Regions from separate parts of the Homo sapiens genome. Here all the other regions are reported to be linked to region 3. The links are microRNA targets in miRTarBase. Many come from high-throughput screens and were not tested one by one. Region 3 holds a microRNA gene; each other region holds the end of a gene's coding sequence.
What was found. The annotated mature microRNA hsa-miR-8084 reads GAAUACUAAGUAAAAAAUCAGUA and lies in region 3 at 2,767-2,789, shown strand. An mRNA with a match to its seed (bases 2 to 7 or 8) in the 3' UTR can be bound and repressed. Matches are read on the target gene's strand: a 7mer-m8 pairs with bases 2 to 8, a 7mer-A1 pairs with bases 2 to 7 and ends in A, and an 8mer does both.

Region 1 (4,154 bases), not on the chromosome of region 3:
AACCTGGCTTTGACTATTTTGAGCTTTCTATATTACAACAGACCTTTACTTATACTGTAATTTTTCCTCTATCATTCTGTAAGTTTTGCCTTTCCTGATTGCCTGGATAGTCTTTAGTGGATTTACAGCTTGGTGACAGCCTAGAGAGATTTTCTGTGGTCAAAACATGATTAAATAGAGATTTGTTGGTCAGAAGATAACCATGAACCATAATACCCACAAGGGAAAGAGCCAGATTCAGTTTTGGGTGGGTCGATGGGGATTTACCTCATATGCTTTCTTTTATTTCACAAAATGTGTTCTGTTCTTTACTTTCGTATCTGTAGGAATAGAAATGGGAATGTGGCCTCTAGGGTGTGCTGATGTATGTTTAACAGCTGGCTTTCAAGGAAAAAAAAAAAAAAAAGATCTGATTTGCAGTGTTTACTAATTTTTTTGGTGTAAATACTCTCACCATGGCCAATTTCAAACTACCAACTTGACAGCACTGAAGGCAGAAAAAATGTTCACAGTTGGCTCTTGTAAGCCAGTGCAAGCTTGCTCCAGCACACTACTGGACTAGGAATGATCTGCCTGTAGCCAGGAATGGGAAAATACCTTGCCCATGACAGCTTAAGGTATGAGAGGACAGAATTCTACAAAATACAGAGTTTTTACTTTAAGAAAAATGGATTTACTCATCTACAGTCTGTTTATTTGTAGACTTCGACCTTTTTCTTTTGAATTACTGGCCATATGAGTATGCATTATGTAATAACCTTAGCATTGTAACTTCTATTTCTTTATTCATAAGCAATAACAGTTTCTAAAACTGGCTTGTATTTGAGATTGAAATGATGAGAATCATTTTCAATCCAATTTTTTTTTTTTTTTTTTTTTTTTTGAGATGGGGTCTCACTCTGTTACCCAGAGTGCTGGAGTGCTCACTGCAAGCTCTGCCTCCCGGGTTCACGCCATTCTCCTGCCTCAGCCTCCTGAGTAGCTGGGACGACAGGCACCTGCCACCAGGCCCGGCTAATTTTTTGTACCTTTAGTAGGGATGGGGTTTCACCATGTTAGCCAGGAAGGTCTCGATCTCCTGACCTTGTGATCCACCCGCCTCAGCCTCCCAAAGTGCTAGGATTACAGGCGTGAGCCACCGCGCCCGGCCCAATCTAATTCTTTATACCATGAACCAAATAAATTACCAGTTTTATTTCAGGATATTAGTATAATCTGCATTCTAATATATTTCATAAAAGAAAATATTTTATTTCCATTACATAGGCAAAGTTTGTTTTTTCCCATATCAAAGCCAAATATTATTTGATGTACTGACCAATAATATATGTAGAAAGAATAACAGCAAAATATCTTATTTCTTTATATAATTTAATATATACCCTATTAACACCAGTGTGCAGATGTACAGTACTGACAGTATACTAAATAGTTAGTATTAAAAATTACTTTAAAAATGTTTTCAACATTAGGTACTGGTGGAACCAGAGCTGTTATTTTGTACATCATATCATTTATGTGTTGCAAAGGAAAAGTAAAATTTCCAGTAGCATTAGAAAAAAATGTACTGATATTTTATGTAGATATACAAAATCTCATGACATCTATTGAAAACCTCACAATTCTATTGTGCACTAATAAAAACACCTTTTCAAACAACTTGCACTTATACTGAGTTCATAAAGGCTACTATAAAAATATTGCAAAAGCAATAAAAACACAATATCGTACAAAGTCTTTTGTTTTTTAAAAGTCAAATTTTAAAAGGACTGTATTTATATAAATGTGCAATACTTTTTAGTGACCCTGACTAACATTTTTGTTTAGGATTATCTGATTTTAGAAAACTAAGTTAAATGTTTTTCCTTATTTTCTGTTTCAGAATGAGAAGACACTAAGAATGCACAGAGGTTTAGAAATAAGATTGGGTAAAAGCTTTATGAAGTGGGATAGCAAGCACTCTACATGTTTTACTTGTTGCCCTACCAAAGATACAAATGCCTGACTGCCCCAATTTCTGAAATTTAACTTGAATTCTAAATCTTAACTACCCCCCTTTCCTTTATAATCTTTGAGATGAAAGTGTAAAGATTTTAGGTTCTCTAACAAAACCCAAAATATCACTAAAGCCATTCTCCATTTTCAAAGAATATTTAAAGAAATGCGTATTTCAATATAAAACCTGAAAATGCTGAATTAAGACACCTTAATAACATGGCTAGCCAATTACTGATGTGACTTTAGCCTTAGAAAAAGATTATCAAAATTGGCTAAGTTCCAAATTTAAGCATTTGGTTTTATACTGTTAATATTGTACCTTTCTGATATAGATATCAAAGAAAAATGATCTGATTTTTTTCCTGAAAACAACAGTAAAATACAAATTTTTTGTGAAAAAATCCATGTCAAGATAGGAAATACATTGTTTCAAAACTCAGAATAAGTGTTATGAAAGAACTATAAAATTATAAATTTCTAAAAAAAAATACACTGAAAATGTCTCTCTAGGAAAAAATATGCAACTTGTTAGATACAAGAAAATATGGCATTACCATAGGGTGCAGTCAACTAGGCTATGAGACTTTAAAAACTCACAAAAAGTAATTAGCACCAAAATTGTCTGAAACTTCAAATGATATATTAAAGTAGGTCTAGGTCCAAATGTTACATTTTAAAAAAGTTATATTTAACCTGGGAGCTTTCCCCAGTAATAATAAATATATTATTTTTGACCTTTAGAAAACGTTCTATCTTTACTGATTTTCATCACAATATTAAGGTAGTGTATGCTAATTATCATTTACCTTAGTTTAGGCTGGGTAGGGACAATTGAAATCCAAATATTTCCCAAATAATATGAGATTATTTGGTGGGGAGTGTGAGTGGGGAGAAGTTTTCTAAGTGAAACTTACTTTTAGCTTGTTTCATACTTTTTCTTCTGAAATGTTTTATTGGAACTCTTTATAAGAACTATATTGCTTGATTTGAATTCCATGTCCTGTTATTTTCCCTGTTCACTTTCTGGTGGTGTTACTTAAGATTTGGCATGGGGATAGAGGTGTATAAAGGAGACAGAGATCACAGTAGTGAAACAAGAGTTTTGAATAAGCTAATGTATATTCAAAATATATATTCAACCCTGTTATGATCAAGAGTTTAGTTTTAAGTGACATCCATGTATAAATTTACTTACAAAACAGCCAGCACATGATTTGAAACAAGGCAAACTTTTTCGGTTGTCAAAAAGTGAAATATATAACTTCTTCAATTACATATATGGCTACCAAATGTCAAACAATTCAATTCGGCCATGTTTTACTGTTGCACATAAATAATAACAAGGCAAAGAACAGCAACTAGTCCAAGGGCTTGCAGGCCAAGGAACCACAGCATAACCCAAAAGAAAATGACTATTACTGGTTCCACTATTCGTTCTCCAAAATACATCCTTGTGAAGCCCATGTTGATAAGGTTTTTGTTCAGTTCACCAAAAAGTGTTCCCATTTTCTTGTAGTCATCTCCAACCGGCTCACCAGTGTGGTTCTGTGAGTCTTCAACATCCTTTAAAAAAAAAAAAAAAGACAAAACATGAACATAACATGAGAAATATGTAAACGTCTTTAAGAACCTTAGTTCTTCATCTTCCAAAGTGCTGGGCATACTTCTGATAATTATTCTACAAGTACCTGTTAACACAATGGGAATGTTCTTTTTGATCCTGGAATTGCACAAAAATGACTGCTTAAGTGAAGAATCATGTTTGTATTTCTCTTGTGAGTGACCATGATTTCAGAACACCCTTTTCTGCCACCCTCCTGTTTTATGAGGCAAGGCCTGACTGCTCTGTCCTGGTAAGATTCTTTTTAGACGGTTCCTTTGACACTAAGACGTTAAGAAACCGAGCCTCAGATGACCAAAGCATGTTTGCTGTTATTATTGAGCAATCCTCAGCCACTACTGCTGTGATCTTTGTCTTAGGCTCAGCTAAGCAGACTTCAGCGCAGGCCCTTGCATAGTTTCCTGTTCATTATATAGATGCCCTAAATGCCTCTTATTAATTTCATCAGGAGAAACAAATAGTTTTAATACAAATTTTTTTTTTTTACAATAAGGCCAAATGTCTACCCAGTAGTTAGTATCCCAGAAAATGTCTA
Region 2 (4,154 bases), not on the chromosome of region 3:
CTAACCCACTGCCTACCAGAATTCAAAATGCTTGGTAAGTAACACAATAAACAAAAAGGCTGTTGGGTTAATACTTTTAATTACATGATTGTAATTATACAATTTCCACTATTCGATATTTTGTATAAAACCAGTTACAACCCACAAGATTTTCAAATGTGACAATATGTATCAAACTACATACATATGCAAAGTTTACACGCCATTAGGAAGCTTTATCTTAAAAATACCTTCAGGAAAATAAACATTCATTCAACCAGTTCTCTTGGCTTTAAAAAATATGATTAGAAATATACGCTGTAAAAAAAAATCAAGACAATGATTGATCAATACTGATCAGTTACATTTTAAAACTTTTAATAATCTGTACATGAGTGCAGGTTAGATAAAAGTCTGCAAATTATTAATAGAAAACTGCAGTACTATCATCGGATGAACATGTCTGCTGACAATTCTACCAGGTAATTAAGGAGGTAATTTCCTACACAGTATAGGTGAATTGTCCAGTCTTTAAACACATCTGGAGTCATCTCCACTGAGTGACATGGAGAATAACCTGATGTGGGTAAATGGAAGAGCAGCAGATAGCCTCTCCAGGGCAGTTTCAGCGGGAGAGAACATTTAAAGGAACAATAAAATAGGTTTTAAAAGTTGCTTTTGATGAGCACTGCTTTCCAAAATGCAATAATGATTTTTTTTAATGTAGAAAGAGAAGCTGTGTTAAGAACAGACATCCAATGAGTGCACTGCTTCTGTGGCTCCAAAGGTGACTGGGAAAAGAGAAGGCCCCAGGAGAGCCCTCAGGCCACACACAAGCCCAGGCCATCCCGCCCAGCCCAGCGAGCACACTGGCCTCATAACAATGCTTGGGAACTCCTCTAAAACTTGCCTAGGCCCAAGAAAACAGAGAGGTAGCAATCACCCCTGTGAGAGGGCTAGAGAGGAGGGGAGGAAGTAGGTAGGGGACAGGCTAGGGGCATCAAGCTCAGAACAGGGGAATTCTGGAGGCCGCAGAGCTGCGTGCTGCCGGGAAGCACTGGCCACGCCAGGCCATTCTGCTCTCACGAGGCGCTGCTCCTCACCAAATTCTACAAAAAGCTAAGTCCGTCTATACTTCTAGGAACCCAGTTTTGCAGACGCTCTTCCTCCGGACTGTCCCTGACTTTTGATAATTTTGAGTCCCCAGAAAGCTTCAAGAGCACCTAAAAATATTCACTTCCAATTTTAATTCCATCGCAAACCGTCCCAGTGTACTTTCAGGGCTATTTAAGGCTCTTAGGTTAAGGGGATCTCTCCATCTGACACACAGTTTCATGTTCCATAGCAACAAGGTCTTCTATAACAACGACTCTAAGTCAGAATTCCAGAAGATTCTGGTTGTTTGTGGTTTCAGTTGGGGGTGAGGGGAAGAGTCCACTCTCATTCATAGCAGGAAGAACTTTCCATCCCTCAGACCCAGAGACTTCCTGGATGCTAGAGACAGTCCTCATAAGTGTAACACTGCCCTTGCTATGCACACCATCCCAAGTCATTTGGTTATTACAAGGAATGCCTCTTCACCAAATCACAAGTTTTCTATGACTAATTTCAGTGAACCAGTTAAATAGAAAGATTTTTAGAAAGAGCCACAGTGATAGCAATTCTAGGTGGAAACTTGAGCAGGCAACATGAAGAGGCAGTTTATAAAATGAAAAAGGGCTGTGGTTCCAGTGACACCCTTTCTTTTCTTGGACGAAACACCAGGAGGCTCATTCACCGTGAGGGAGACAGTACTCACAAGAGCTGTGGCGCCTACGTTTACTTGTTCTGATGGGATGAAAAGCCAAACTAAGAAGGGATCAGATAGAAGCACGATTTTCACAACTACCTGGATTATTATTAATGGAGGGGATGGCCTTAAAAGGGGTAAGGGGAAGAAGAGGTGCCCTGAGAATTCAATGCTTTATGCATGGCACAGTTTGAATATTTATATTGTCTCAGCTCAAAATAGCAAAAGGAATGTTCCTCCTCCCACCCAAATCTTATTGAAGAGTAGTCTGCCCACAGCCAAGTGGGTCTTTGTGCCTATTCATTTCCAGGGACAGAAAACCACTGTTTTTCTGTGATCCAGTCCCCAGTGTTTAAAAGCTGGCCTGACCCCACCCGACAGTGCCTGGCGGGGAAAGAGTTGCTTGTTTGGCTGAGAACACGGCATCTTCCGTCTCTCATGATGCCGGTCAATTTTATACTTTCTTCCAAGAAAGTACACCAAAATGGAGGCACTGCCTTTCAATTACTTTTTGCATTAAAGACTTTTAACTTGTTTATTCCAACCGCTTTTATTTCTTCCAGTTTTGTGAAAAAGGCAGCTTCTTAAAATGGAGTTGCCTACTAATCTGGCGCACGCCTTGTGGCTTAGGAGGGCATTTGTTTCCCACTGCCTGTCGACATCTCAGCCCTCCATGCTCCCGGCACAGGCAAAAATGGCTTAACAATCATTAAACCACCCACTTCTTATGGAAGGAACTGAGGTGAGTACTATATATTCTTTTATTTCGGGCCCCATTTTTTTTTTTTTTTTTAGCAGCACATCAATTCTGTTTCTGTAACTGCTTCATGGCACAGACTCTGCTGTGTTCCAGTAGGGCTGCGGGAGAAGGCACTCTGCAGAGTTACTAGTTGTGTTCCCTAACCAAAGGCAACAGTGAGATCCAGAAGCAGATCATTGTCACTGAGATCGCAGGCCACGTCAATGGCCTTAGGTGGATCTCATAAGGGAAAAAAAAAATCCAATGTTACAGGGAAGGACTCTAAAAAAGTGGTAACTTTTTTTTTTTGTAAGCCGACATTATTTGGGATTGCTGTTTCCAAGGGGAAAAACCAATAGTGTGTTTCTTCCATTCATGGAAGGAAATATGATTTTAATTTGTATGACTGGCAACCAAACAATGGGCAGCCTCCCAGTTCTTCAGTCCCTGAAGGACAGAAAAAGGAACGACTTGCAACATCTTCCAACTCTGAAGTCAGTTTCTCCTCCTGAGTCTTCTAAAGCTACCATTAATATTCTCTTGCAAGTTTTAGGTTACTAAGGTACCACCTGGTCTTACAACATGCAACAGTGTTTAAATGTGATTTTCACAGATTCTTGTTAATAAAGCACTCTTTGGTGGAAGACAAGCAGCTTGGGTACTTAACAGAGTTAACATTACAACAGTATTACAAATAGTCAAGTGAAGATGATTAAGCCAAATAGTATCAAATTACAGAAAGTACCATTTCAGTAATGCCTTTTGTATCTTTATAAATTTTGACACAGGGTCACAAGGTGAACAGAAAATAAATACATAAAAAACCTCCATCAGATCCTCAATTCTTCTGAAGGCCAGCAACTACAATGATTGCCATCACAGGGACACACATGCACCACAGACCAGCCAGCTCCCTGGGTACCAGAGGGCTTGGGTATTTACACCTGAGACTAAATTTACAACAGCATGTTTGTCATTCAGCTTGAGAGCTGGACCCTTCTCTGAGTCATTTGCTTGCACCCAAACTCAAAGTTCATTATTCAAACTCCAGTGGACATTTTCTCCATTGATCAACTTCTTAGGTGGAAAAAGCAACTAAGGCTTTTGCAATTTTGTTTTGTTTTCAAATTGTGCTAATTTCTGTTGCAGTTTTCAGTCCTAGAGTCTTCCTTCAGCTCTGGTCACAGGTTTTTACTTAACGCAAGACTGTTTTAGTCCTTGAAATGGAGAGACTACAGGGGGAAAAAAAAGGATTTTTACCAGAAAGTTTACACAGCGTCCACAGGCAGTTATCAAAGACAAGGAGGGCAACATAATAAAAATACTGACATGCTAAAAAGTATACGCTTGCTGTAAGTTTCTAATGACAAATACTTTGGAGAAGACAACACAATATCAACCACAAAGGAAAGACAAACAGGAGAAAGGCAGGGCAGAAAAAGGCTCAGTTCTGCAAAAAATAGAAATTTAAAAAAACCAATACGAGTAAATAAAAATCATAAAAGACGGACGGGCAGGGGCAGCAGGGCCAGGAAAGTACCATGACGCCGCCAGGGGCACGTGCTGCAAAGCACTCCTTGTCCTTCCTTTCCTCTGAGGGACCAGGCTGTGGGAGGAGCGGGCAGAATGAAAAGATAGAGAACTGTT
Region 3 (4,154 bases):
TGCAGAAATCAACTGTACCGTACAAACTAGGTGAAATATTTCTTTACTGTGGAAGTCTGGTCAAGTTCCCTCCAGAGACGGATATCTCTGCTTTGAAAGATAATTTTCAGGGGTCCAAGCAGAACAAATGAAATCTTTACGGGTTCAAGCTTCTGATCATGTGTCAATCCCTGAATGCAGTATTTCCAGGAATGACCCAACAGTTTCATATATTGTGAAATATTTGAGATCGTGTCGTCATTTATTCCTGGAAGAGCCACTGGCCAAGAGAGAGGGGGAGGGGGTGAGCGTTTCTGGGAATGGTCTGAAAAAGTGGTGACCCCAATTGTTTTGATGTAGCTGAAGACATAGTTAAAGGAAAGGCATATAAGCGTGTGCAAATAATGGGAAATGGTTAATCTATGTAGTTTATGGAAAGGAAATATTCTGGGCTTTGAAATGCTAATTTACTAGAATTATTATTCAAATTCAAAGAAAAAACATGTTTCCAGGAAGCTCTGCTTGACCCCCTGTCTTCCCCAACTCAGAATGGGTTTTGGGTCTCTCTCCCTACATTTCTAAATTGATTGCATAAAGCTTTCACAGAGCACTCACAAGATCATATTGTAATAATTTTTGTGTTTATGACCTACTACTTCTTCAAGAACAGTGATTATATTTTGAAACAACTGTTTAATTCCAGATCTTGTCATGATGTCAGATGTAGAGTAAATGTTCAAGAAATGCTTACTGAAAAATTAATGAATGAATAAAAAATGAATAGATCTCCAAATGGCCAATTTGCCATTTTATTTCCCCAGTACTCCATGGCTATTTTAAATGTTTAATTTGTAATCAAGATGTCTTTAAAAATACCTTTTATCCCTGTCTTTAATTATATTTTTCATATGACCAGAAATACTTACTTTTGTATCCTTCTCTTTCATTTACCCATATGTCCTACTAGGAAGGATGTGGTGGGATGAGTGTTATTTGGTGTTAGTACATCCAGTATAGTTTACAAATTCAAGAAAGACAGAGTGGTTCAAGAATGAACTATGTGTTTAGGGAGCTGGACAGGGGACATTGCGACAGCTGTCAGTGCTTGGAGTGATGGTTACACTTCTAGCCACGAAATGAACCCTTGAGAAAGCAAGTTATTGAAAAGACTGGTTGAGCCCCATGGAAGATGATGATAACCAGTCCTCAGATTACTACTTATATTTTAAATATCCCCAGTAAAGTCCAGATACACATATTTCACCTGTTTAAAGAGTTTTGCAGGAGTGTTCAGGTGCTTGTTGGTAATTTCATTCTAGATCTCAGTATCTTAACTGGAGGAAGGAATAGCAGAGAAAATACAGTACAAAAAGCAAGACTCAACTTCTGCACACAAAGAGAATACAAAGAATTGTCTTAGGTAAGAAGAAAATAGGTGAATCACGCTCATGCGTTAAGTTAAATATCAGACCCTTTTATTTTTCTATAGAAAATATTTTATGAGAATAAGATATATCTATATTGAATTTCAAAAGTTAAATATTTCTGTGGTCCAACGCTTACAGAATTGATCATTCCACTAGGAGGATAGTCTGTGAATCTCAAAAGGCTATACCATTTTCTTTTTACTTCTGAGAAAAATATTCTTTGGCAGAGTGAGAATGTTTAAAATATTTTATTTGTTTTCAGATACTGGCATCTTGCCCTTCATATTTTTAGACTTTAAGCACTAACCCTCTATTTTGATTACATTGTTGACAAATACAGAGCATTCATTTTTTGGTAACTGCTTGGCTGGCTCCCTCACTTCCCTCAAATCTTTGCTCAAATTTCTTCCAATCCAAGTCTTTCTTTACCATTCTACCTAAAATAGCCCTGCTCCATCACTCTATCCCCATATCCTTTTTGAAAAATTGTTCTCAGGACACTGATATATTATTTATTTTTAATGCTATTGTATATGTCCTCCCACTTTAATAGAAGTTTCATGAAAACATGATGTTTATTATTTATTTATAGCTGAAACCCCAGGGACTATAACAGTGCCTGGCATATCATAGGTGCCCCATAAATATTTCTAGAATAGAGAGAACAGAATGTGTTAGTTGCAAAAGCATCTTCTGTTTTCAGAAAGGCAGGTAATTTATTAAAGTTGGAATACAGAATGTATATGGGAGTGTAGTGACCAGATGTGCATTTTAGAAAGTTCATTTTGACATCATGCACAGGACAGTTCATTTTTATAGCAGTTTTAATGAGCAATATTTTTATAAGACTGGATTTTATCACTTTCGATGGACTTTAATAAGTATTGAATTGAAATAAACATTAACTGAGCATCAAGAAAGAAAATAAGAAACAAGGGTCCTGGGTAATCTATAAATTGATGTTTCTTAAGTAATTAGACATCAACTTGGCTTGGTATATTTCAAATGCCCTTGGTTCTTGAGAGTACCATTTTCTTCCTTTTTTCATCTTCAAGGACTTCTATACATAGAAGAAGAAATCTACATTTACTATAGACATTAAGGGAGGTGTGTTTAATCTTATGCATAGCTCAGAAGGACAAGTAGAGCCAGAACTCAATTGCTTCCTAGATTCGTGGTTCTTATATCCAATGTAACCCAAAAGCACATGCCATTATTCTGACAGGAGGTGCAAAAGCATTCAGTCAAATTCAGAATAATGCTACCTCTCTGATCCCAGCAACCGTTCATGGCTGTGCCCATCTCAGTGAAATCCTTCTTTTAGAATCTTAACTAATTTGATAAGATAGACAGATAAATAGAATACTAAGTAAAAAATCAGTATGGATTAAATTTATATTTTCCTCGATACTGAGTATTTTTTCTTAGGTTTAGTTTGGGTTTCCTCTTTTATGAGTTGCATATTCATATCCTGCGTCTATTTTTTTCTATTGGTTGTTTGTATTTTTCTTCCACATTCATTAAAATTCTTTGCCTATTCTGGATACTAATACTTGGAGGAATTACAGATTGCAAATATCTTCTCAATTTCTTTTCACTTTCTTTCTGGTGTCTTTTGATGTATAAAAGTATTTACTCTGATGCAGCCAAATTAACTAAGCATTCCCTTTATGGTTTGTGGAGTTTTTAAATTGTTTTTTAAGTCTTATTTCAGGATCTTTCTATATCCTAAGGTTACAGAGAATTTTCTCCTATAATTCCCTGACCATCTGATATGGTTTGGATGTGTGCCACTCCAAATTTCATAAGAAATTGTGATTCCCAGTGTAGGAGGTGGGGTCTAGTGGGAAGTCTCTGGGTCACAGACAGATCCCCCATGAATGGCTTGGTACTGTCCTCATGGTAATGAGTGAGTTCTCACTCCATTAGTTCACCAGAGAGCTGGTTGTTTAAAAAAAGTTGGCACCTTCTCCCCTCTCTCTCACTCCTGCTCTCAACAGGTGACACGCCTGCTCCCACTTAACCCTCTGCCGTGAGTAAAAGCATCCTGAGACCTCACCAGAAGCCAAGCAGGTGTTTGTGCCATGCTCGTACAGCCTGCAGAACTGTGAGCCAAATAAGCTTCTTTTCTTGATAAGTTATCCAGTCTCAGGTTTTCTTTCATAGTAATGCAAAACCAACAAGTACACCATTCTACTTAAAATTGCAACCCTAGCCCCAGCTCTGCAGGCACTCATTACTTCCCTCTCCCCATTGGCTCTAGTTGTCTTGTTTACTTGTTACTTGTTACTTGTTTCTAAGTTTGCTTGTTTATGTTTTTATTATGTCTTAATGAATTATATGTATACTTCATAAAAGCAAAGATATTTGTATTTTATTTTCACTGATGTATCCATTATACACACAAAATTGCTTGGTACAAGTAGATGTTTAATAAATTACAAATGTAATTAGTAAATGGACATTTCTTCTAAAAGTTTTAAAGCTGTGCCTTTTACATTTAAAATTTTAAATTTCTTGGCATAATTTTTTGTGTATGTGGCATAAAGTACTATTCTAAATTTTATGTTTTCCAAATGGATAACAAATTGTCCTAGCAGCAGTTTTTCAATAGCCCAACAACTCAAACATCTATGTTGCTTCCCTATATATATATATTTTCATATATTGTATTCACTAGAATGCAAGCTCCATGAAATCAGTGACTTTCCTTTGTTACCTGCTTTTTCCTCATTGCTAGAACCATGC
Region 4 (4,000 bases), not on the chromosome of region 3:
AAACTGTCACCATTTTTACTAAAAATAAATACAAGACTTAAAGTGTTGCACAGCTCTAAAATATACAAAGGCTTGGATTGAATGTAAACGTTGAAAACATCTTACAAAAGAAACCATCTTTGCAGCAATTTAAAAAGTTCATATTTACAAATATTACAAAAATACAAAATGGATGCAAGTCCATAAACCATTGTCGTTTCGGCCAGCATGAACTGGTTCTAGTACCAAAATAGTTACACTGTAACCTTCTTCATAGTTTTAAATCTTTATTACCATCTAGTTCTCTACGTGCCACCACTGCAGCAAATGCACTCACTCACTGACCTTTGGCAAGAGCAAACAGCATGTTCTGTTTGCTACAACTAGTCCATGTCCTCTACTTAGCCAAAAACAAATCAAAACAACAACAAAACCAAAGTAGAATTTTTAAAAAATGAAAAAATTTCCCCTACACAACATAGATACGTTGTATAAACATAAAAGAACAAAAAATCGCATCAGTGCAAACAACAGAAGAAAAGTTCGGATTGATGTTCTTCACAATACCTAACGTGTGTACCCTGCTTCAAGACGGCAGTGATGTTAAAGACAGCCCTAAATCTTGGTCTTGTTTGCTATGTAATCAAGCCATGTAGAATATTCCAGATTATTAGGGAACTTCCTGCTTTTTCTTCTCAGTTTGTAACTCAATACTCTTTTCCACAGTGAATTTTAAATCCATCTTTATTTGGGTTTTTTAAATCTATGAAATATAAAATAGAGAAACTCTGCTATAGATTTTTAGAGTAAACAAAATAAGTAAAACTATATTATAAGGGTTAGTTCTGTGATCATTACATATAGAAGGTATCTTATTGCCTCACAATTCAAGTCAATATGTATTTTAAAAAATATATGGTACCATTACTTAATGTCAATAATAAAAAGGTGACATTTTTATTAAAGCCAATTCATGTGTTTTCTATTCAAGATTTAGAATCACTTTTAAAGCCCACATACCTTTCTTCACACTTAAAAAACCCCTAACTACACAAAAGCCATACTGCAAACGAACTGCTTTTATGAAATTACGAAAGATCGCCTACTGTGACTGGAAATGACGGTTTCTTATCGCATTTGCCTAAAAACTTTATTTTTAAAACTTTGCAAGGTGTACTTTTCAAATCATGAGACAGATTTATTCATGTTCCCATGTGGTGTCAAACCATGCTGGTTTTCTTAATTAATGGGTTCCAATGAGAAATGGTGGTCCATTTTATTCAAACCCCAAAATATTTTTCTTTTAAGAAAAAGTGTGACATTTTGTAAATGTTCAAACCCTTTACCAGGTAGCTTATCTATCCCCAGTGTGTGTGCGTACACACACACTCACACTCACACACACCCATACACACTCTCTCTGACTCTCCCTCCTCTTATACCCCTCCACCCCCAGCACCCATTTTACATACAAGGATGACAAGAAATTTAGTAACACAGTTTGGTAGTGAAAACAAATAGTAGAAGAAGCCAGACATTTTTTTTCTTTCCAAACAAACAAAACAACAGCAATCAGATTATCTATTCTTAATCTGTAGCAGTTTAGAAATCATTTCTATTGAAAGACAGTATCTTCTTAGACCAGGCTTCCTCCTTCATTTTGCATGAATTAATCCAAAATGCAAACCCTCTTCCACACCTCCTACTTTCCCAACTACCACTTGCATAAGCTTAAAGCCAGCAGCTTGTCAATTTCTTGGTAACATTGGTATGTTCTATCACTCTAATCACATTCTAGTCTTTTATAAGTCAGATCCCTTCTTAATTCTCTCTCTGTTCTACCTCTCCCATTCAAAACCTATTCTAAGTACATAGCTGCTTATATTTCTGACATAAGATTCCAAACATTAGTATAAGTTCATGTTAAAATCAGAGGTGTAAAAACCATTTGCAGATTTTAACGTGTAACTACATTTTTTTTTCAGTTTTAAGACAAGAAAATTCAAGTAATTTCAAGTAATTCAGCTTGTTTCCCTGCCTTTATTTTATCAGAGCACATGCCCTGACATTTCCTCTCCCACCCTCCACCCTCCCCTTTTGCCATCAAGCAGACACTATAGTAAAACCAGACAAAAACTCAGTTGTATGTAGTATTGTGAACCAGAGCTGTTCCCCATTCCCAGTTTAACAATGAGTATAAATAATGCATATACACATACCTATTTTCCAACTACATTGTTCACAGTGTCATTTCTGTTAATTTTTAGGTAGCATGAATCTCATCAGCACAGAGAGAAAGCTTCACTGAAAACTCATTACAGGTACTTACTGATTAATCAATAGCTCTGTGGCATGCTTAGGTTTTATTTTTGTTAGTTTAAGAACCTGGAGCTAATTTCTAAACTGTTTAAGGAGTTTAATGATTACAGTCATTAGTTATGACCGTTTATGTCCCCAGTAGCCTAATATAAAACATAACCTAAAATTAACTACTATTTTCCCTACTCATTCTCTTTAAAGCAATCCATTGAAAAAATTAAAATCTAAAGGACACTGTCAAATGCTGTTGTTCAGGGCTTTGTGTTGAGAATGATGACTTCTCTCACTGATTAAAAAAAAAATCAAAAGCATGCTTTTCATTCTGTCCAAATTACCACACAACAAATCACAGCCATGGGTTGCTATTAGTTTGTTTGGTGCTGCAATTTGTCATAAAAATGATTAGATCTGAATTCATTATTTTAATTTATTCATATTTCAGTATATGACCTCAAGATTTCCTTTAGTTCACCAGTTTAAAATTCATATTTGAGGTTTACCACTCAGAAATCATATTGGTGGACATTTAAATATGGCATTTGATATGAAAATGGTATTCACAGAATACAGTTATTACATTTTATTTTTGTGTATTCTATAAACAGTTGGTGTGCAGTAGATAATTGACCACATGTCCACTCATCATTGATAAATCTATTTACACATTTTTATCAAAAATATGGTATTTACATATGTGTAGTTCTTTCTTCTAAATTTTGCTTTAGTTTGTTTTAATGTAAAAAAATACCAAACATCCAGAGTAATTTCATCTTCTTAAAGAATAATGACAGTGAGGGCTTTAGTTTCTGAATAGGCAGCTCTGGGAAAACGTTTTCTAGGTGTCATGAAAATTAGACAATTTTGTATCCTCTATTTTCACAAGGAAGGAGATTGCGTAAATCAAACTATGCTAAAGAAAAACATGAAAGACTGCAGCTACTTAAAATATGGAAACTAATCAAGAATGTCTAAACCACTTTCTGTTTACCCAGCACATACTGTATTTAGAAATTCATTCATTGCTTAGCAGTGATGCTACCCCATCAAGTTGAGACTTTTCCCAAGTCCTCTGTTCTGTTCCTCCATCCTCATGTGAGTAAGGGTTTTGGCCTTTGCCAGGCAGCCTGGTACAGGCAGTCTATGTTGAACTCTGGGAGGAACGGTCGTCATGTGGGCTCCCGTCAGAATTTTCCGTCTCTCCCTCGGAGATTGCCTGCATGGGCGTATTGTACAGCCGGCAGCGGACACTGTAGCGGCTGCTGCTGGCTGCAGGAGGGGCCCGAGAACGTCCAACCCTTGCTGATGCTGAGGTGGCAAAGCTCTTCGAGGAAAAGCCTTCTGCATTAACTCGTGGGGAGCATGGAGAGAGTGGGGACAATGCCTCAGCCCCTTGTGACCCCTGATGGGCATCATCGGTGCTCTGAGGGGACTCTGCTGTGAGCTCCCCAGGAGGTTTGGGCAGTATGGGGCTCTTCAGGATCTCAGTGGCAGACATGCGGTAACTAGAATCTGAGCGACTGCCTTTCTTGAGCAGTAACAGCTTAAACTCTTCATTGGATGTGTTGGACTTTTTGGCATTTCGGTATATGAGACCAGGAGACCTCTGGCTGTTGGGGGTTGTCACATTACTGCTGGGTGAAGTGATGGAACTGGCGCTGCTGCTGCTACTGCTGAGGGGAGCTCTCGATTTGCTTCGAACAGA
Region 5 (4,154 bases), not on the chromosome of region 3:
GCAACAGAGCAAGACTCCATCTCAAAAGAAAAAAAAAAGAGTATTAAATAACATACACACAAAGACAAATGCAAAAGTACTAACCTGTATGGACTAGGACTATAGGAAAACCTGGAATTTGAGCATTAAATTTGGCTCTGAGCTTACTTTCCCACCCTGAAAGTTCTCCAAGGAAAATGCTTGTGCAGCTGACTGCCAACCCCCCCAGATTCCTCACGTCCCGCACCCTTCTCATTATCTGGCCTGCATCTCTCCTGCTTCAGCACCTTCTGACTCGTTTGGCCTCCTGGATGCCATTCTCCTTGTCATTTTTCTTGGACTGGGTGACCCATGTCTCTCCCTTTCCCTCAGCCTTCCTTCAGATCAAACCACCCTGATCCTCATGTTTCTTCCTATCTCCTAGATATTTGGCATGATCTTCAGTATGATCTTGTGCTGTGCTATCCGCAGGAACCGCGAGATGGTCTAGAGTCAGCTTACATCCCTGAGCAGGAAAGTTTACCCATGAAGATTGGTGGGATTTTTTGTTTGTTTGTTTTGTTTTGTTTGTTGTTTGTTGTTTGTTTTTTTGCCACTAATTTTAGTATTCATTCTGCATTGCTAGATAAAAGCTGAAGTTACTTTATGTTTGTCTTTTAATGCTTCATTCAATATTGACATTTGTAGTTGAGCGGGGGGTTTGGTTTGCTTTGGTTTATATTTTTTCAGTTGTTTGTTTTTGCTTGTTATATTAAGCAGAAATCCTGCAATGAAAGGTACTATATTTGCTAGACTCTAGACAAGATATTGTACATAAAAGAATTTTTTTGTCTTTAAATAGATACAAATGTCTATCAACTTTAATCAAGTTGTAACTTATATTGAAGACAATTTGATACATAATAAAAAATTATGACAATGTCCTGGACTGGTTTTTGTTTTGTTTAATTATTTTGAGAGCTATTTGGTTTGCAAATGTCTTTCAACTCCTATTAACTCCACCTGCATTTTTTTTTTTTTTTAAGACGGAGTTTCGCTCTTGTTGCCCAGGCTGGAGTGCAATGGCCCGATCTTGGCTCACCACAGCCTCCACCTCCTGGGTTCAAACAATTCTCCTGCCTCAGCTTCCTGAGTAGCTGGGATTACAGGCATGCACCACCACACCCGGCTAATTTTGTATTTTTAGTAGAGACGGGGTTTCTCCGTGTTGGTCAGGCTGGTCTCGAACTCCCAACCTCAGTTGATCCGCCCGCCTCAGCCTCCCAAAGTGCTGGGATTACAGGCGTGAGCCACCGTGCCCGGCCCCACCTGCATTTATATGAGAAGTAGATTGGGAGGTTGCTCACCCCAGTTTACTAATGAAGAAATCTAGATGTGGAGAGATTAAAGGATTCTGATCCAAAGTCACACAGGTGTCAACAGAGGAGTCAGCACCAGCACCTGGTCCTCAGACGCTCATTCAGCAGTGGGGTATATCTTGGGGATATGACAGTACACCTCACACCATGGTGGCAGGAACTTTGTTTTATTCACTACCTAGCACCTAGTATCTGGTGCATGGTAGTGTTCAGTATTTTTTATCAGTTAATATTTTTTGGTTGAATGAATAAATGAGTGTGTACCCATCAGGGTTTCATCAGAAAAGCAGAACCACTAAGAGGTACTTGTTTGAAGAGATTTGTTGTGGGAATTTGACCTTACACAGTCACTGGCACTGGGGCTGCTTAAGCAGGCTCTGCAGACAATCGGGAAGGACAGACGGATATAAAGTAAGGGAGGACAAGCCCAAGTGGAAGCCCTTGAAGGCAGACACATCCGTCTGTGTCAGTTCTTTTTTGTTTTTTTGAGACAGGGTCTCACTCTGTTGCCCAGGCTGGAGTGTCATGGCCCAATCTCAGCTCCCTGCAGCCTTGACCTTCCTGGTCTCAAGCAAATCCTCCCAACTCAGCCTCCCAAGTAGCTAGGACTACAGGCATGAGCCACCACACCTGGCTAATGTTTGTATTTTTTGTAGAGAAGGGTTTTGCCATGTTGCCCAGGCTGGTCTTGAACTCCCGGTCTCAAGCAATCCACCTGCCTTGGCCTCTCCAAAGTGTTGGGATTACAGGCGTGAGCCACTGCACCCGGCCCCATGTCAGTTCCTGCCTCTGCTGAGGTGAGCCAGCAGAGAAGCCACAATTCGTGTGAGCTGTAAAATGACTGCTGCTTCACTTCCCACCTCCAAACCTTCCACAAGTTTCTCCTCTGTGCTCCACTCTAACCGGAAACACACGGGAAGGGAATTCTGGGAAGTGTGGTTCAGCTTACCCAGGTGGACAGATCACAAAGCCACCGCTGCATGGGAGGTGTGATCCGTGCCCAGACTGCACTGTCGTGGGCAATTCGGAGGCAAGCAGGCAATGATGGCAGAGTGGGATGAACAGGAGAAAGGTGAAGTGCAGAGGCATAAGAAACCGATTTTTATGTTCCACTCCTTGATTCCATTTGGGTTCCTCCTTAACATTACAAAAAGAAAACCAGGAAAGAAGGATCAAAATGTCCCTGAATGCCATTACATTCAAACATCAGAACACCAAAGTTGATAGCAGCATTATTCACAACAGCCAAAAGGTGCAAACTCAAGTGTCCTTCAACAGATAAATGGATAAACAATACGTGGCCTATCCATATGATGGGCTAGAATTCCACCTTAAATGCTGCAACATGGATGAATCTTGAGTACGTTATGTTCATTGAAATAAGCCAGACACAAAAGAACAAATATTCTACAATTCCCTTGATAGGAGGTACCTAGAATTGGTAAATTTATAAAGAAAGTAGATTAAAAGTAACCAGAGGCTAGGGAGAAGGGAAAATAGGGAGTTATGGTATAATGAGTACAGAGTTTCTGTTTGGGATAATGAAGAAGTTCTGGAAATAGATGGTGGTGATTGTTGCAAAACTTTGTGAATATACTTAGTGCCACTACATTATATGCTTAAAAATTGTTAAAATGGGCTGAGCACAGCGGCTCACACCTGTAATCCCAGCACTTTGGGAGGTTGAGGTGGGAGGATTGCTTGAGCCCAGTCCAAGACCAACCTGGGCAACATAGTGAGACTGCAACTCTACAACAAAAAAAACTGGCTGGGCATGGTGGTGCACACCTGTGGTCCCAGTTACTTGGGATGCTGAGTTGGGAGGATCACCTGAGCCTGGGAGGTCAGGGCTACAGTGAACCAGGATCTCACCATTGCACTCCAGCCGAAGCAACAGAGCAAGACGCTGTCTAAAAAAAAGAACAAAAAAAGGGTCAAAGTGGTAAATTGTGTATTATATTTTACTAAACACACACAAAAAAATAGCTGGTTTGGCATTATTGAGTGTCCTTGCTGCTCTGTGGCCCTAGGTCCCTTATTAATCTGACGGCTGACGACTGTTCCCGTTGTGGAAGTAACAGGTCAACCATTAATTTTATTTTATTTTATTATTTTTGGGAGATGTCGTCTCGCTTTGTCTCCCAGGCTGGAGTGCAGTGGCATGATCTCGGCTCACTGCAACCTCCGCCTCCCAGGGTCAAGCCATTCTCGTGCCTCAGCCTCCCGAGTAGGTCGGACTACAGGCACCCACCACTATGCCCAGCTAATTTTTGTATTTTTAGTAGAGAAGGGTTTTGCCATGTTGGCCAGGCTGGTCTTGAACTCCTGACCTCAGGTGATCCACCCGCCTTGGCCTCCCAAAGTGCTGGGATTACAGGCGTGAGCCACCACGCCTGGCCAACCATTCATTTTATATAGGAATGGAGGAGACCCCTGCGTGTAACCTCCAGCTCCTTCTAGAGAAAGCAGGTCTCAGAGGCTACGAGCACATTCCATGCTGCAGCTTTGCTGAAGGGTAGGTTAGCGTGGAACAGACTGCAGCTACTTAAATCCTGGAACACCTCGGGGCTATCTATATCCTGCCTTTCTGTTTGTTGTTAATAATGTAAGGACAAATGGGCTAGCTTAAGCAAAAGTGAGCAATTAACGCAAGAATGAAAATGGTTGAGCCTTAGGAAGATTCCAGAAACATGGACCAAGAACTCCTACAGCTCTCCATTTCTGCGCTACTATATTTTGCTCTTCGAGGAGACCAACTTTGTTACTCAGCCGCTTCCCGACCGGCTGCCCCCCAGCTCCCAAGCTTACACAGAGGCA

Region 1: miRTarBase lists FAM241A as a target of hsa-miR-8084. The part of its 3' UTR that is shown has no 7-base or 8-base seed match.
Region 2: miRTarBase lists CDC14B as a target of hsa-miR-8084. Seed matches in the 3' UTR shown: 7mer-A1 at 69-75.
Region 4: miRTarBase lists NHS as a target of hsa-miR-8084. The part of its 3' UTR that is shown has no 7-base or 8-base seed match.
Region 5: the mRNA of CD9 is a reported target of hsa-miR-8084. Seed matches in the 3' UTR shown: 7mer-m8 at 582-588.

The regions. Positions count from the first base shown.
Region 1 is chr4:112,186,100-112,190,253 of GRCh38, reverse strand. FAM241A (family with sequence similarity 241 member A) reads right to left here. Exons shown (of 2, transcript NM_152400.3): 2 at 1-3,561. The coding sequence ends at 3,316. Among named protein-coding and RNA genes, the nearest start is that of FAM241A, 43 kb to the right of the region's middle.
Region 2 is chr9:96,500,051-96,504,204 of GRCh38, forward strand. CDC14B (cell division cycle 14B) reads right to left here. Exons shown (of 14, transcript NM_033331.4): 14 at 63-3,739. The coding sequence ends at 3,703. Among named protein-coding and RNA genes, the nearest start is that of HABP4, 52 kb to the left of the region's middle.
Region 3 is chr8:93,026,995-93,031,148 of GRCh38, forward strand. It overlaps MIR8084 (microRNA 8084), which reads left to right and starts at 2,757; the gene lies at 2,757-2,845.
Region 4 is chrX:17,731,901-17,735,900 of GRCh38, reverse strand. It overlaps NHS (NHS actin remodeling regulator), which reads right to left. Exons shown (of 9, transcript NM_001291867.2): 9 at 1-4,000. The coding sequence ends at 3,437. Among named protein-coding and RNA genes, the nearest start is that of SCML1, 3.6 kb to the left of the region's middle.
Region 5 is chr12:6,237,360-6,241,513 of GRCh38, forward strand. CD9 (CD9 molecule) reads left to right here. Exons shown (of 8, transcript NM_001769.4): 8 at 404-907. The coding sequence ends at 469. It overlaps LOC105369625 (a long non-coding RNA gene), which reads right to left. Exons shown (of 5, transcript XR_001748979.2): 4 at 2,287-2,474. Among named protein-coding and RNA genes, the nearest start is that of CD9, 39 kb to the left of the region's middle. RefSeq lists an enhancer at 3,863-4,154.